Regions from separate parts of the Homo sapiens genome. Here region 1 is linked to region 2. The links come from fine-mapping of genetic effects on gene expression. Tissue or cell type: whole blood. Region 2 holds a variant in brackets; the other region holds the start of a gene. All regions are shown on one strand. Distances are between the middles of the regions.

Region 1 (8,998 bases), 140 kb after region 2:
CTAAGTTTTACAAAGGCCCACGGTTAGTGGCATGAAAATTTGACGGAGAAAAAGAAAAAAGAGAAAAAAAAAAAGAAACATCTTTCCATTATTTTAATAAAATGATAAAAGTGATAATTAAGTGGAATAAATTAAAGAATGTTATTCTATTAACAATATAATAAAAGCCTTAATTAATATAGCACGTTTTACTTAAAAAATTTGAAATGCTGAGCAAGGGAATTACTAATCTCAACACAATCAGAACCACACATTGCACAGAAAGAAATTCACAGATGGGAAATAAAAAAGAGCAGAAAAATAATTTTCCCAAGGTCACAACATTCTTACATGACATAGTTAGAAACTGAACACATGAATACTGACTACAATATACAATTTTTCTAATAACACAAGACTATTTAATTAATTTTCTTCTTTTTGATAAGTCAATGGTAGACATGCATTTTCATCTGAATGTCTATTAAAAAAGATAAGCTAGTTTGAATTTTTTACAAAGTCAGAAAAGGTTTGGAATCTGGTAAGACAAGATATTTTGGATTTCTACAAGTTTTAAAACAATAGAAAAATATTAGTATTTTCTATTTCCTTCTGTCTTGCATTTACAACCATGTTGCAAATCAACTTTTTGAGCAACTTTAGGATGTACAATATGAGGCTTTGTCATATGAATATTTAAGCATAAACCATAATTTACATCTCATTCTAGGTACTATGTATGCAGTTTATATAGGAACAGGTTTGCAGGAGAGATGAGTTACACTAGCAGGGCTTTCTGAGGCCTACTATCCTTTCTTACTTTTGGGTCCTCTTTTCCCAGGAGAGTGGAAGGCTAATTTCTCTCCTTCACGCTTTTTTTTTTCCCTACTAAGGCTGGAAAGAGTAAGCATAGATGTTATCATGAATTTTTAAAGGTAGAAAAAAAAAGGAAATTAGAAATTGGGGTCTACTGATACTTTTCTAATAATACAATTTATATGAATTTTGTCTAGACTGAGATCCTTAGAAAAATAGTGTTGAAAAATGACTCTGCCTGCCTAAATTGGTTTTTTACCTTAAGACTTCAGAAACAAAGAGTTTTTGAGCTGGGAGACATTTCAGAGAGTAGGCCTCTAGTCTGTCTTTTTATTTTGTATGAGAAAACTGAAGCTCAAAAAGGTTAAATGACTTGCTCAAGTGCCTGAAGGTAGATGTCCTGAAGAAAGCCTAGAAAAGCAATTTACTGCAAATAATGCTCCATTAAATTGTAAATTGCTATTGGATTAAATAAATCCTTAAGGAAAAAATATATATATATTGGCTGTTAAACAGTTTTTAGTTTTTAAATTAATCAATTTCAATAGTCCTACATCAATAGTCTTTGAAAGGACATTATTTGAGTTGATGCTTTCCCAAGTCCTGTTGAGATCAATTGATATGTTTCAAACATAATATCCCACTGAAGAAAGCTTTATGTGTGCTTATGTCTTAGAATGAATCTTATATCAGTGAGATCAGTGAGTAGTTATGAAAAATCCCATAGAGGGGTTCATACAGATGACCCAAGTGAAGAAAGAGTTAACTGCAGCGCCCCATCTCCTTGTAAATAATCCAGAAAAGCATTCTTTTTTTAAGCAATACAAAATGTCACCACAGGCTGACGCTCTTTCTACAAGAATAACGAGAATATTGCTATCTCGGATGTTGAACACACACTTCATTGCCTTCATCTCTGAATTCAGTTTTCGTGGTTCATATATTTTTCTCCTCCTTTCAAAACAGGTAACGTGGCACGCCTAAAATATATCAATGACTTTGTAGCGACTACAAGCCGAAAGACCCGGGGAAGCAGTTTCACAAACTCGAGTTTTTGACCTCTACAACTGGACATACACTATTAAAACTGCTCCGGAAATGAAGAGTGGCCGGCAGGGAAGGCAGTTACCCCGCTCAAATGAAGCCGGCCTTTGGCACCGCGCCCCCACCGGGCTCTGCTATGCAGAGGGCTCCGAAGAAGGCGCACTTACTGTCCAAGACTTGCTTCCTCAGTGTAGACACGGCGCCTTTAGTGCTGTAACCTTTCCTTTCAAAACACACTGATACTGCAATGAGAATTTCGGCAATGCCAGCTCGGTAATTCACCGAAACCACGGATCTGAGGGTCCAGGGCCGATATCGGATCCTCAGATTCACGGTGGCTGGTTGCGGTGAGCCGGGGCTAGCCGCTCGCCGAAAGCGCGCAGCTCGGTGCCCCCTGGACACACGAGCCTGTGGCGCCAAAAGAACCACCGTGAAGGAGGTCTGAAAGCGGAACTTTCCCCCTTTTAGCAGTTAAATGTGTAGAAAAACCTATCCTGCGACGTGGCCCGCCTGTGACGGCACCGAAAAGGAAACTGGTTATGTGCCTGTGTCAGGGGTGTGGACGAGGGTGAGATTACATTCTCCAAGTCTCGAGGGGGTTAATCGGAAAACCAACTGTGGGCGTGTGGACGTTTGCATGTTACAAACCGACATCACCCTTGTCCTCCCTTCTTGGCTCATTCCCTGGCTCCAAAGTGTCCTTTCCTCCATCGGACAGTGGAATCTCGAAAAAGTGAAATCCACACTGTGCCAGGCCCAAGGGGGTCTCGCCTTTCCACCTACCTCCCCAGCGTTGTTACACTAGGACACCTGCTTTAAATCCGGTTGAACTATGGTTTCACAGTCCCCGCCCCAGAGCCCGAGATTTGTCAGAGAACGCAGACGCCTTTTTTTTCCCTCAGCCTCAGAAACATCAGGTGAGCTCATTACCTCACCCAGAAATGTAACTTTAATAAAGAGATCTGGAGAGGGCACTCCTCCCGCCCACACACACAGCAACGGCAGCAGCAGCAGCAGCTCGCAAACACTTGTAATCTCTTCCTCAGGCTCTGGCCCCCAAACCCCTCTCCCCGCCAGTTCCTGGGAGAGATTCAGAGGCTTTCAAACCTCTTCTGTGACCTGAGCTTGCCGACAGCTGAAGGGATGTGCACGGATAAAAGGAAGTGAGATTTTTCTTTGATAAAAGCTAAAGAAAAAGCTAAGAACAAACAGGCCAAAATACCAGGAAGTAGGAGTTTAACTGGCAACTGTCTACGCAGGGATAGAAAAAAAAAACTTCAAAGAAAAAAAAATCCCCTAAATTTTCAGTTTAGGGGAGCAAAGGAACCTGCTGCTCTGTCAGGCAACTGTGAGCGCACGGAATACCCTGTTAGAACAACTTGTGTCAGCCGCCAGGCGGGCCTGAGGATACCAGGGCCAGGGGACGTCCCCGAGGGTGTGGAAAGGGATTTCCCGAGAGATATTTTAGTTGTTGGGAATTTTGCCTTTTCTCTCTCTCTCTCTCTCTCTCTCTCTCTCTCTCTCTCTCTTCCAAGACTCAGTACAGAACTGAGAACTGAGGCTCTATGAGCAGGTCCTGGAAATTCACAAACCTCTCACTGAGGTGTCTCCCAGGCCTACCTACTAATTCCTGTTCTGGCTGTGTTATCTGCCTGCGGTCACCCTTTCACTCACCACCCGCCCAGACAATGGACGGGGACCGCAGGGGGTAACGTTGAAACCACGATTTTAAGCTTTAGCAGGTTTCGCAAGGGGGGCGGGGGGAGGTGATTAAAGTCCTCTCCTTCTCTACCCCTCCCATCCCTTCCTCGGCTCACCAAGGGGAAGTTACTAGGGGATTTATCACGAAAAAGTGCCGGCAGTTATTTCATCCGAGAACTAAGCGAAAGAAAAACTGCTCGGGGCGCAGTGACGTGGACTTGGATACCCAGAGACAGGAGGAACTGTCAGAGGGCAAGAGTCCGCCGCCTAGCTGGGAGCCGCAGGGACAAGGGGAGAGCGTCAGGCGAATCCTGCCCACCCCGGAGCACCAAGTTCCTGGAGATTCACCCAGTTTCCCCAGCTTGATGCCCAAACTTGAGCTAACCAGCCAAGCCCAAACGTGCGGCACAGGTGACCGAGCCCGGGGACAGCTCTGTGCCAGGACAGCGGTCCCCTTACCTCCACCACGCGCCTGGGCGCACTGCCTCGGGGGTGCGAGGCTGGGACGGGGACCTAGGAAACTGCTCCAGGCCCACGTCTGTCTGGGGCTGCTCCCAGGCCCTTGCTCACCTGGCCTGAAGACGGTGGCGGAGATCAAGAGGCAGAAGAGCAGACGGCAGGAACTGGCCCCCTTGGATTCCATATTCCTCCTCCTTCTTGGTGGGCCACTGACGGAGTCCACGCCGCAGGAGGGGGCGTCGTCCCGGGCCCCGCGGTGCCCGCGCGCTGGCGGGTCCCGACGCAGGGGCAGCGTCTTCTCCCAGACACACCGTCCCCTGGGCTGTGGCGCTGCACCTTCGGTTCTCTGCCGCACGCAACTTTCCACCACGCAATGCCCCCAACTCCTCCTCCCTCCCGGTCAACACCAGCCCACGGGCCCTTCGGCTGCTCCTCCGGGGACAACGACCCTCTGTTTCCAGGAGACACTTGAGTAATTCGGAAAGGTGTAAGCGGTTCTTTTCGCTGGTATCTTCTTTTATTTTCCTTGTATTGGAATGATAATAATAATGGCAGTGGCAATGTGCATGAAACGCCAGGTGCTAAGAAGGACTCGCAGGAGGCGGCGACGGGGGGGCGGCGGGTCTCCTCAGGTGGCAGCGGTGGTAGCAGCGGCAGCGGCGGCAGCGGTCTCCGGGCTGCTCTGAGTAGAGGGACTGGAAGGCGTGTGTAAGCTGCCTCTTTCCTCCTCTCCCCGCCTCCTCCCTCCCTCCCGTCTCCTCCCCACTTCCCCGGACGCAGCGCAAAGCAGGTGGTTGAAGCGCGGATCCGCAGCCTAGAGGCGCTGCAGGACTGAGTCCGAGCCCTGAGCCCAGCTCCGGGATCAGGGAGAACCGCGTGCCCCGGTCCTGGAGCCCGGATGAGCGGTGCTTCACCGCGGCTCCGCCCCCAGGGCCAGGTCCGCCAATAAGAAGCAAGCACAGGAGCCGCGCGCGCCAGGGAGAGCCCTGGGACTAACACTTTCTGTGATGTTGCAGCGCCCCAGTGATAAGGCCTCTGGCTTCCAACTGCCCACCCACCCTCGCTGAGGTTTAAAAATCGACTGCCCTCTCCCTCCACCCATACGCCCATCCCACTGACTCATTCCTCAGAGATTTTTCTCCGCCGTGCTGCTGCAGCCTTCTGTCCTGTAAAGAGAATAGTGGGGCAGGGCGGTGGCGGTGGGGAGCGAACCTTGGGTCCAAGAGCGGGAGTGAAGGGAAAAGGAAAGGAAAGGGCAGGAGGAAGTGGCAAAGGTGGAAACTTGCTTCTTGGGAGTTAACAGGAATAGCTACTTGTTGGCAGGGGCAACCCCTGTACTGGACTGATTCCTCCTGTACTTTTCGAATCTCTCTCCTCCCCCTGCTCACCCCCACCACTCCCCTCACACCCGGCTGGCATAGACTTGGTTTTAAAGGAAGACTACGTGAGTCGACTGCCCGGTACCAACAGAAGATATTTGCTTTTCCCGGGGGAAATTAAATCCGGAATTTCTAAACCGTACTTCGTCATACGGATTTTCCCAATGTCTACAAAAGCCCTCTAGAGAGCGTGTCACTTTTTTACTTTGAGTTAAGCGGTGATTTTAAGTTATAGACAGAAAATCCTCAAATTATTTCAGATTAAAAGCCAAGTCCGTCTTGGTCCGTTCCCGAAAGCCAGGCACTCCAGCAGATGGACAGGCTTCTTAGGCAATTTCTAAAGATTGAACCACCTCCCAGGAGGAACATCGGGAAGCTGTGTTGCTTTCAAATCAGGCAGAGAGCATGAAGGAAGATTTTCCTCTAGAACACCGGGGTGGAGCTGTCGGAGCCCTAAGTGGCTCTAAATCAGGGATGCAGGATCACAACTCTCATCACCAAAGAATAATAAAATCTTGGTCCCTGAAGCACTTCGCTGGGGCATTAAATAGCCTTTCGTGCATCACAGGGTCACCCTTTTGTGAGACTGGTCTCCAGCAGAGGATGCCAACTAGTAATCGTTACATACTGCACTTTCATCAGAAAACTGCGAGTTACCAGCGAGATTGGAGACTCGCAACACACAGACACACACACACACACACACACTCACACACTGATTTTTAAAATTGTTTATCTTTTAGTGCTCTAAACTATTAAGCCCTATCTTCAGCTGTGATTTTTCTCAAAAGCCTGCTTGTCCTGTTCTTCCAGTTCTCCTTACATTAACAATATTCTAGAGTAGAGCTTTTATACCATATTTTTTTCCTCTCAAAATAAGTAGTTTCTCCCACTTGGTTTAAACATTAACATTTCATTTGCATCTTATGAATCAACAGGAAGGCTATCGCTAGGAGGCAAATGCCTTTTAACTCTATATTCCTTGAGCTAAGCTTGGCTGAAATGCTAGCATTTCCATGGACTCCTGTAGAATTGCTTTAGGGAATTGTTTTCTTTTTCACTGTGGTTGTAAGTGGGGTGTATTAGAATAAATCGACCTGACAATATATTTAACCTAGGTCCGCGAACGCTCTATCTGATCTCCTCTATTTTACGATGGGAGTTAATACAGCATAATTGCTTAAAGGTAGATTTGCAAAAGGAAGACTGATTTGGGCTCTGACACTAACTGTATGATCTTGGTCAACTCACTTAACCTCTTTAAGCTTCAGTCTCCTTTCTTGTAAAAAGTGATAATAGTGCTAGCCTCATGGGATTGCTGTGAAGATCAAATGAGATCAAACACACAAACACACACGTGGAATTCTGGGAGCAACTGACTATACAAATATGTACATATTATACTTATACACAAACACATGCATATATATATGGGCATATGTATAATATATATTTGAATGTGTAGTCCACTGCTTCCAGAATTGTTTTTAGAAAGGAATGTGTCCTAGTTTAGGAAAATGCCTTGATAAGCCACTTGGACTAGTAACTCCAAAGGCTATTGGTCATTAAAAAAAAATGGTGAAACGGCTCTATATTAAACAAAATAATAACCATGAAAATAGAAATTTGGCCTGGGAGTGGGGACGAAGGCAACAATACAAAGCATGAGTTTAGAAATGTTCAAAGGTCTTTAGATCTATTAATTAGCAACACTTACATGTTAGAATATTCTAAGCAATTTATATGAATTAATAGATGTATTCCCCTCATAAAAATTTATTGAAGGAGTTGCTATTTTCATCCTCATTTTACTCATGAAGAAACTGAAACCCAGAGACTCGAAGCAACTTTTCCAAGGTCACACAATGATTCATAGCAATGGTAAAGCCAGGGTTCTACCCAGGCATTCTGATTCTTGAACTGAATTCCTATCTACTTTGCTCATCACTATCCACTTTGCTTATCAAGAATGCGTAGCAATAAATGTATGGTTTTTTTGGTGGGGCGATTGATTTAAACATAAGTTCTCTCATCCTTTCACACACATTTTCATTAAGGAAATTTATTAATAAAGCAGCGCACCCTATCTGCGTAGGCCAGATACAGTGCATATGAGATGACAAGACCACTTCTAAACTGAAATAATGTAGCATAAGCAAGAGCTCAGAGTTAGAAATAAACATAAAAATGTAAGCTCCACAAAGTAATGTAATCGAATTAATCTTTCAAAATCTAGTCAATGTGGGATTGGATCCATCTTACCTAATTCTTGAGAGGAAGAGTGTTTCCAGCTACATGTAGATCACAGTCACTTTTGTTACAATTGAGAATACATAGTATTCCAATAATATTTATTGTATAGTTTAGTCATGCATCAGAGAATCATAAGGGTACATCTTGCTGAAAGGGAAAAATGAATAACATTTATCCAGGGGGAAAAAATTTCACGTTACCTGGGACATGAGAAGAGCTTTGTATTTTAAGTATAAAGGAATTCATCATCAATCAGGATGATATGCTCAAAAGCAGTGACATGGTACCGGAGGCAAGTTTCCTACTTACGGTCTGTTGAGATAAGGACTCAGGATTCCCAAGGCTCAGGCCAGGACCCCTTCCCTGTACTAAAATATTAATCCCATCAGTATGTGACAACATAGCCGAGTCAATTGTGTGTGCCTTTGAAGAATGGAAGTAGTTTTTCTCCCCTGATTAGCACCGCCAAAATTTCCACTGGAGATGAAATTTCAACAAAGATAGTTTTGGAAGCTGAGAACATTTGTTCCTACCACTGTATACCATTGTGTTTTGTTTGCCTTCCTACTCCTTGAACAAAATTGTATGCAGTTCCAGAGCATGCAACAAATCTGATTCACTCTTCTCTCCTTCAAGCGTCACCTACGGTGAATGCATGTTCAGCCATACTTAAAAATAGATTGGACACTTGATAAATTTTTGTGAATGGATGATAAGTGGTGAGAAAAATACCTAATGGAATATAAGCCTTCAAACCATCTTACAAGGGTTCATGATATGAGAAGATGAAAGGGGTTTCCATTGGGTCTTCAATGATTGGTCTAGGCAGACTAAGGTTTAGGAAAGGCAAAAAGAATGAGTCAAGTCCTAGTCAACAAGGTGATAACTATGAAGTATAAAGTGAGGAAACAATCTACAGAAGAAAGGCTGTACTAAAATTATATGCCATCAATTAGAATAAAACAAAGTGGCCCATGCTGAGCACAGAAACCTGATTAGTAAAGGTTCTAGGTGATCAAGCTAGGGCTTAGGCTAATATACTGATGACAAAGATTGAAATAAGGGCCTAAGTGGGATTTATATTAAGTCTAGGAAGAAACACAATCTTAAAGAGGCACAGAGATTACATCTGTATAATATAAAATTCTGTTTTATTCTAGACTCCAAGTTGTTTTTAAGTAAATGATTTCCAAAGTTATTGTATTAAATACACATGGAGGACCTCTGGGTATATCTCTTCCCAAGTCCATTGAATTTTATTGTTTAATTTCAGTTGTTAACAGTATCATCTGTCAATGAATTAATACAATTCTGCAACTCACCTTTTCAATAATGCCAGCTAATAAAGACATATCACTGAAGCTCAG
Region 2 (8,998 bases):
TCATGAGGTATATAAAGTAAGTTCTCTGTGTGTGCATTTGTGCATGTGTGTGTGTGTGAGATACAAAGGGCTATAACTGCCAAGTAATTTGGAAGGGATGCTGAGTTAGAGAAGTTACCTGATGAAATCTAATGTCATTTTGTGAAATAGAAAGAAGGGCTTTTTCTCGTTTCTTTTTCTTTGTTAATTTTCCTTCAACAAATGGGGGTAGTTAGAGGCCAATTTGGGTCTGCTGCATCTGAAGTAGGGATATGTTTATTCAAAATTCATTTTCTGCATTGCCTTTCTCAAGTGTTATACATTATAATGTAGATATAATTGAGTGAGGCCTACAAATAAGATAAATAGTAATTATTCCTTCCTCCTCCCCCCACCACTTGCCACTGTGGAATAATCTTCAGAGGGAAAATGCCCATGTTACTAAATTATAAACTACTAGTAGTACCCAGGATTATGTTTTAAGATAGGTACTCTTTATTTTACTTCCAAGTTTGATATAATTTAATGCTCTAAATATTTATCTTTTTATTAAACAATAAGCCAATATAATAATCCATATTATGTCATAGAAAAGAATTACACAAACAATAAAGTTTTAAAAATACACTATCGATATTTACATTGCTGTGCAGAAAATTACCTTCTTAATTTACCTTAGCCTGATAGTTTGTTATTCTACAAGCATGAAATGATCTATGGGGCTGGATACGTCACAGTTTCTCCCAATTAGTTTAGGCTTTACCCCATCTCTACCTAATTTTATGGTTCCTTGGCCCCATCTACTCTGTTCAGATTCCTATGTTTCCTTTAAGGCCTATCTCAAAAATCATCGAATCATTCAATCATGCATCAAATATTTATTGGACACCTGCTACAGGGCAAGTTTTAGGTGTGCTTTGTGAAGAAAATGTATAAGTAAAATACAGAGGCCTTTTCCTTAAGAAACAAGATGAAATCAGTGTGAGGTTTTGGGTTGGTAAACCAAATGCTGTGGGACTGTATAGAAAGGAATCCCAGCAATGAGATTGAGGATATTGGTAAAAGCTTCTTGGAGGAAATTTCATTTGACCTCATCACTGAATTGAGGTTTCTATAGATGGGAAGATAGGAACTACCTCAATAGCACAGTGCATGAGAAGCACTGAGTGACGCTTGGTTTTCTCTCTTTGGGCAAACTCAATTTTTATTATAACAATTTCTACAGAGTAGATCTTTGATCTTCATAAGGAACATGTCCTAAGACTGGCAGTTTTCCCAAATTCATAAGCGCACATAAAATTTCTCTAATAAAATGCAATAAAATGTTAGATCTCTATTTTCTCTTTACTTTCAGCATCAACACTAGCATTTGGATTCCTTTTGGGGCCATTTTTAAATTATAAGCAAAAATCTTATTTAGAAATGATCAAAAAGCAACAGAATTGACTGAAGTTGTGAAACCTTATTTTTATTTTTTGAGTTGCCTCATGAATTTTAAATCAGAATATATGCAGATTCTACTGCACTCATTAGCATTTCTTAACTTGAGATCCAGGAATGAACTTTAAGGCATCTACTATACTATTCTTTGAAATTTTAGGGAATACAGCTACAGGGTAGTGAGAGGGGAGCACTGTGGTGATTTGAGATTAGTGTTCCCCCAAAATTGTCCCCTCTTAAAATTGTCCCCCCAAAAGCTATTTTTGCTTTAAAAACATTTTAATGGAATATAATATAGATGGAAAAAAGTACACAGATCTAGACTTACATTTGAAATGTCACTAAAAGCACTGGGCTTTAGGGTTTCCTTGGCAATGATCCTCACATTCTTTTTTCTGAGCAGGAGACTGAGATTCCACATACTTGTCCACAATGAAACCCCTGTGTTACCAAGTCATCATTCCTAAATGATGAGTATTTTTGGCCAGGCTATGGGGTCTATGCCAACATGCTAAGTAAGGCACAGGCCCTTAAGTGGTGATAAACTTAAATAAAAAACATTTAAAAATACTTCATGCTCTGTATGCGTGGGAAGGGGGTGCTTTGGGGGGGATAGGCAGAAAGAATACAATGAACCAAAAAAATCTAGATTTTGTGTGTAAAAAGAACAATCGCCTCTATTTTGTTTTAAAGTAGATTTTCATAGTAAGGAGGACTAAACAGGAGAAATGTTTAAGTATGTTTTTCTTTATACTATATATTTTGCTCAAAAACATGTATGTAATTAATAATTTGTGTTAACTGAAGTTCCGAAAGTTGACTATTTCCTACTATTATACTTCTAATTAGGATTTGAGGCTGAGTCCTTAAGGTGCTCATATAAGTAGAGTCCTTCACTCAGATAATTAGTCAATACAATAAAAATAACTAGCAAAGTATGATTTTCCTTCTGCTCCCCTCTCCCCTGATTCATTTTCTCAATTTAATTCTTGCTAAAGAACTAAATTTTCTTCAATTTAGTCTAGATTCTGATCCTGTTGACTTCATTTGGGAACTAGCTTAACTGGAGATGTAGAAACTTATATTTGAAATATTAGTTATATTAATTCAGGCTAAGTAATGCAAAGGACAGATGAATATATTTAGATTCTATTGCTCTGTACATTTTCTGAGCATGAAAATCTAAGTTTAACTATTTCAGAGTATCAGTTCTACTTAAATGGAGAAAAATTACACTTTCCTGTGCATTTTACCACATAAGTTGTATTGAAATTATGAATACAATTCACCTATTTTAGCAAGAAGAAGAGTGTACTGCATTCGTAAAAACATTTCAACAGAAAGGCAGGCATAATGCTTCCCAAAGGATCTTAATTGAATCATCTGAAGTAATGGAAAATTTGGAGTTTAGAATGAAGTCTGTCTTCAGAAAGAACTCACAGTTATTGTGACATTATTAAATTTGTTTTCTGCAAATAGTTTAATGTCATGACAACAAAAAGATCTCTTGATTTGAGAAAATCAAAGCTATCTTTGATAACACTACCAAACTCCAAAACCAAAAGTTTCTAATGCTTTAATATCCCTCAAAATGCTTTAGAAAAAATATATCACAAAGACTTTTAGCCAATAAGATCATCATTGTTTTCACAGAAAGCATCTGTTAATAATAGCTTACATGAACTGTATTGCTTTAGCTTTTAAAGTAATATTCAATAGTATTAGAATTACAGACTTAGAAAATGCTGTGTTATAATTGAGGTAGTGAATTACCAGGGATAAAAAAGTGGATTATTAGGGCTACTAAATGAGCAGAGTAGTAGATTTCTGCTTCTGAATTGGTTGAGTGATCTAGTCCGGTATGCTAGCTTCTGGTATATTCCACATTAAGTATCTAACCTCATACTGAAAAATGTTTATATCAGTTGAAATACCTTTTTGCTCTTTTCTTCACATGAATCACAATTAGCATTGCCTATGTCTCCTGAGGATATAGATTTGTACAATCAAACATGGTAAGTAGTAAAGGTTAAAAAGCTATTTAATAGATTTTTCCACATATTTGGTGCAGCTTGCTGGCTGATTTCCGAGACTTAGATTTGTGTAAATTCCATGCTTTTAATTGACAGCTCCCTGGAGGGGTTGCAATATAAGTTAAGGTCATAGGAAGAATATTACGGCTTTCTATGGCATTTTGTCCTTTCTTTAAGAACTGAAGTCAGCTTACTATAAGATCTAGTTTTCTAGCTTTGAGGAGAAAGGAGAGATGGAATGTTTGTCCAAGATAAATTTTTGAAGGAGACTAAAAGCACAGGAAAGAGGAAATTAAAAATAAAACAAATAGTCACATACACTTGGGAAATCAGTATAATCTGCTATCTGAAGATAAAATCATCTTTCTGCCTTAAGAGATGGTGTGTCACCTCAAGGACTGAGTGAGAATGGAGAGTCATGCTCATTGTAGCTTGCCCACAATGGTAGCCCAGTGGGGTAACTCTGGAATGCATGAACTTAGAGAGTCATACTGACATCTATTAATATTTTAACAATAACTTTTCATGTGTTCCATTTTTCCTGACAGTCATTCTTCTTAATTGAAGAGTGGGAGGAAAGATGGGAAAAAGAACAAGATAATTTAGGAAGGCAATGAGTAGAGATGAGAAATATAGGAAGCTGTATTGAAAGGTAGTTTTATCATTTCTAAGGGTATGAAATCTGCATCTGAAGGTGCCTCCCGTTTTGAAATTTTCCAGTACTCCCAAAGATTTTAACTCTTTGAAAACTTCATTTTATATCCCAGAGGCCAAATGTAGTTTTTTAATGTCTTATATTTATTCTGCAATTTAGGAAATGGTTAAATGCACCGCCCAGAAGAATTTTTGGAAGACTAGCTATCACAAACAAGGTGGTAAAACATAAACAAAAACACTGGATAAGGAAAACAAGTTCTTACAGCAGGTCAATGGCACCTGTAGACTGATTACACAGGAACTCGAACATGAGGACAGTGTTACTAAACCCTGACATGAACCCCTCTTCTGGGAATGTGCCTGCTCTCAGATGGTTTCCCACACTTGGTAATATTTGCATTCTGTCTCACTTGTCTCTGCTTCTCCTCTTCACATCCTTAGTAAAACATTATTAAATAAGTGGTTCATCACTTTTGTTTATTATTTAGGGAAAAAAGTCTCTGTGAAGTCTAGTGGACATGAAAATGTTCCTCATAGATCTCCAACTGCTGGGAACATAACTTACCCAACTGCCACATTCTGTCTATTACCAGATTTGTGCTAAGGTTACACTTTTACCAGCTGTTCCCAGCTAATAATTGAATGCAACAAGTATACTAAGACAGGCAAGTTTCTTGGTTACAAGAGACTCCTATGAGGGCTGATTATAGCTCACGGATACCCCGATTCCCTGATGAACCTTCCTTAGACTGCATGACAGTCTAGAACGCTTCCACCCAACCTTCATATCCTCTCCCTTTCACTTGGGACCATCTTTACTCTGCGGTATGCTTATTCTCCACACCGACCACCCCCATCTTCTTCCTCATTTTTTCTTGCATAGGTGTTTTTCCTAATACATTCTTTGTATGTTAAATCCATTTTGACATCTGCTTTTCAGAGGATCCTAACATCTGGAGGAAATTAGGCAGATCATAACCGTATTGACCCACTGACATTAGTAGACTATGAAATTCCAGAAAATAAAGATTTCAGTACTGATGTGATGAAAAAATCCCACCCCAATTTAGTAAGGGGTTAGTTAAATTAAAAATAAAAAATATACAAAAAATGAGTTTAACATTGATTAAAGACTTAAATGTAAGACAAACCTTAAAGCTTTTAGAAGAATGCATAGGGGAAAAGCTCTTTGACATTGGACTTGGCAATAATTTTTTTGGATAAGACACCAAAAGCACAGGCAACAAAATTAAAATAC[G/A]CAGGTAAGACTATATTAAACTAAAAAGCTTCTACACAGCAGAGGAAACAACCAGCAAAATAAAAAGTCAGCCTATGAATAGGGAGAAAATATTTGCAAACCATATACCTGATAAAGGGTTGATATCCAAAATATGTAAGGAATTCATAAAACTTAGTAGTAAACAAAACAAAACCCACAGAGAAGCAGATAAAAAAAACAGGCACATGACCTGAATAGGCATTTTTCCAAAGAAGACATATAATTAGCCAATAGATATATGAAAAGGTACTCAACATCACTCATCATTAGGGAAATTAAATCAAAATCACAATGACATATCATCTCATGCCTGTTAAGATGGTTCTTATTGAAAAAACAAGAGATACCAAGTATTGATGAGGATGTAGAGAAAAGGAAATCCTTGTACGCTCTTGGTGGCAATGTAAATTGGTACAGCAATTATGAAAAACGGTGTGAAGGTTCCTCAAAAAGTTAAAATAGAACTACCAGATAATCCAGCAATCCCACTTCTGGGTATATGCCTAAAAGAAAGGAATCAATACTGAGATGCCTGTACTCCCCTGTTCACTGCAGCATTATTCACAATAGCCAAGATATGGACACAACCAAAGTGTCTATTTATGGATGAAAGGATAAATAAATTGTCTATATAGATACAAACACAATAAAATATTACTCAGCCTCAACAAAGGAGACCCTGCCATTTGTGACAACACAGAGGAACCTGGAGAACATTATGCTAATTGAAATAAGCCAAAGAAAGACAAATGCTACATAATCATACTTATATGTGGAATCTAGAAAAGGCAAATACACAGAAACAGAGAGTGGATGGTGATTACCAGGGGTGGGAAGATGTCAGAAGTGGGGAGATGTTGGTCAAAGGCTACAAAGTTACAACTGTATAGGACACAACTAGAAATGTAAAGTACAGCATGATGACTGTGGTTAATAATAGTGTACTGTATAGTAGAAATTTTCTAAGAGAGTGGATTTCAGGTACTCTCATCACACACAAAAAATGATAACTATGTGAGGAGAGTGATATGTTGATTTGCTTAACTGTAGTCATCATTTCACAAGGCATATGTATATCAAAACCTCATGTTGTATAGATTAAATATATACAATAAAAGATTAAATAGACCTAGAAATACATTAAAGCAATTGGTAATAATACTGAATGTTTTTATGGTGTTTTATAGTTTGCAACATTCTTTTATATACATTGTACATTTTTGCATTTGGGCTTCACAAAAGTCCTGTATGATAAGCAAAGAAACCTGTATGATGAACAAATATTATTATCCTTCATTTTACCAATAGGAAACTGTTCTCCCTGCAAAGTCAAGAGAATAAGCCAATATCACGAAGCCAGTATGTGATGGAGATAGAGCTCAAAATGAATTCTCAGCTCAAGTCCAATTCTCATCACTATTAGATATACAAAAAATGATTCCATGTCCTTATTTCATTTTATATTGTGGATAATTCAAGAATATTGTTTTGGAAAGTATTAAAATGCTTTTCATATTTAGACAAATATTTTAAAAAACATATAGGTTAGAAGGACTAGAAAGAAAATGAACTAACACATTTTATCACTTCTTTCTCAATGGGATGCTATGTAGCAATTTGGCACTTGCTCCCAGGAAATACAAGTCCTGTCCGTGGCAGCTGTTCTAATTTTCAAAATAAAATAGAAAATCATGAATATTCAAGAAGATAGGCATCTTTCAGATCAGGAACCAGAAGTCTAATGAGGCTTTTTAATGTAGGTGGGGCACTCAGGTTACAGGCAGAGGAGCCCTATATGCATTTCTAACACCAAAAACGGCAGGGGTAGCACAGTAGACCTCCAATAAAAACGTACTGAATGACTAAAATGGCAAGGTTGAGATTAAAGTCTTTCTAACTTAAAGACCTGTGTCTTTCCTCTCTGTCAAAAACACTTTTCACAATTAACGACTTTTCAAATGAGTTGCAAGTTTATGTCCACACAAAAACCTGAACAAGAATGTTTATACAAGCTTTACTTATAACTTCTAAAACTTGGACAAGATGTCCTTCAACAGATGAATGAAAAAATTGTGGTAATCCAGACAATGAAATATTATTTAGCAATAAAAAGAAATGAGCCAGCAAGCCATGAAAAAAACACGAAGGGACCTGAAATGCATACTGCGAAGTAAAAGAAGCCAGTCTGAAAAGGCTAAATACTGTATGATTCCAACTATATGCCATTCTGGAAAAGGCAAAACTATGGAGATAGTAAAGAGACCAGTGGTTGCCAGGGTCTCAAGGGAGGGAGGAAAGAATGAATAGACGGAGAACAGGACATTTTTAGGGCAGTGAAATTATTCTGATATGATAATGAATAAACATTATTAAGTGTTTGTCGAAACCCATAAAATGTACAACACAACAGGAAAATCTAATGTAAGCTAGGGACTATAGTCAATAATAATGTATCAACATCGGCTCACCAATTGCAACAAATGTACCACACTAATGCAAAGATGTTAATAATAGGGGAAACTAGGGGCAAGGGGGTGGGGAGGCAGGGAATTGCGGGCCTATATAGGAGCTCTTTACTTTCCACTCAAATTTTTCCATAAACTAAGAACAGATAAAAATAGTCTATTAATTAAAAACAAGTGATACACACAATTTCTTCAGCCTATGCAATATATTCTACATTTAGACAGTCTCATCTAAATTCCACTGGTATAGGGAGAGGGAAGGACACAAACATCTTCAAGGGCAAAGCTTTGGCATCCATTAGCAGAGGTGATTCCAGTCTAGGCAGCTGAATCCCCAGGCAGATTTCAGCAGGTGCTGACTTTCCAACAGCACCAAAACCTCTGATGAACAAGAGTGTCTTGAGTAGAGGCTTAGCAATTGCTGTTTTATGATTATGTTTTTCACATATTCCCAATCCCACTGAGGTGCTAATACATTTGGTTCATCTTTCCATTTTAAAAGAGACAATGGCTTTGATAATTTGTTCATGGTTACTGCTTAGGGAGATAATGACACTCAAAATTCCCCTAACTGAATATTATAATATTACGTCTTTGGCTCTGCTATTTTTAACAGCTTTTAAAGACAATAGTGTCATTTGGGTTTAAAAAAAAGTTCACTGTTCCTACTCATTAAAGGAATACTAGGTTATAAAGACGAGCTGTAAGAGTCCTAGCAGGGCTTCAGATTATATCATGTATTTAGTTTATGAATCTCATTTTGTTATGAATCTATAACTGAAACAACTCCCAATGCTTCCCCCAGGAAGTAATTAATTGGAAACCAAACAAACAAACCACATGGAAAAGACTGAAATACTTTGTATTACTGTCTGAAAATCCAATGGTAATTTTCAAGTTCATTCCCACCTGAGTCCTACAAAAATATGCTATAAGTGTGTGTTCTTCAGCTACAATTCTACCTCTCTGTGTATTTACAACAGCTAATAAGAACACCACCCCTAGAATCAATTTAAAACATTTTCTTTATGTTTTGTGAATTGCAGGAAGCCTCAACATGCAAATATAACTATTAGTACATGTTTAATTAACAGGCATATATTACATACTTCTTAGGTAAAGAGTATCATTTTAGAGAGTTTGTT

What was found.
Region 1: it holds the start of ALCAM, and the variant in region 2 is fine-mapped to the expression of ALCAM in whole blood (INTERVAL, PIP above 0.99).

Annotation. Positions count from the first base shown.
Region 1 is chr3:105,362,594-105,371,591 of GRCh38, reverse strand. ALCAM (activated leukocyte cell adhesion molecule) reads right to left here and starts at 4,683. Exons shown (of 16, transcript NM_001627.4): 1 at 4,111-4,683. The coding sequence starts at 4,183. RefSeq lists enhancers at 1,661-2,161, 2,162-2,662, 2,999-3,158 and silencers at 4,189-4,308, 4,639-4,738.
Region 2 is chr3:105,506,112-105,515,109 of GRCh38, reverse strand. All of the region lies in intron 1 of ALCAM (activated leukocyte cell adhesion molecule), which reads right to left. Among named protein-coding and RNA genes, the nearest start is that of ALCAM, 140 kb to the right of the region's middle. The variant G/A (reference allele first, on the strand shown) is at 5,368.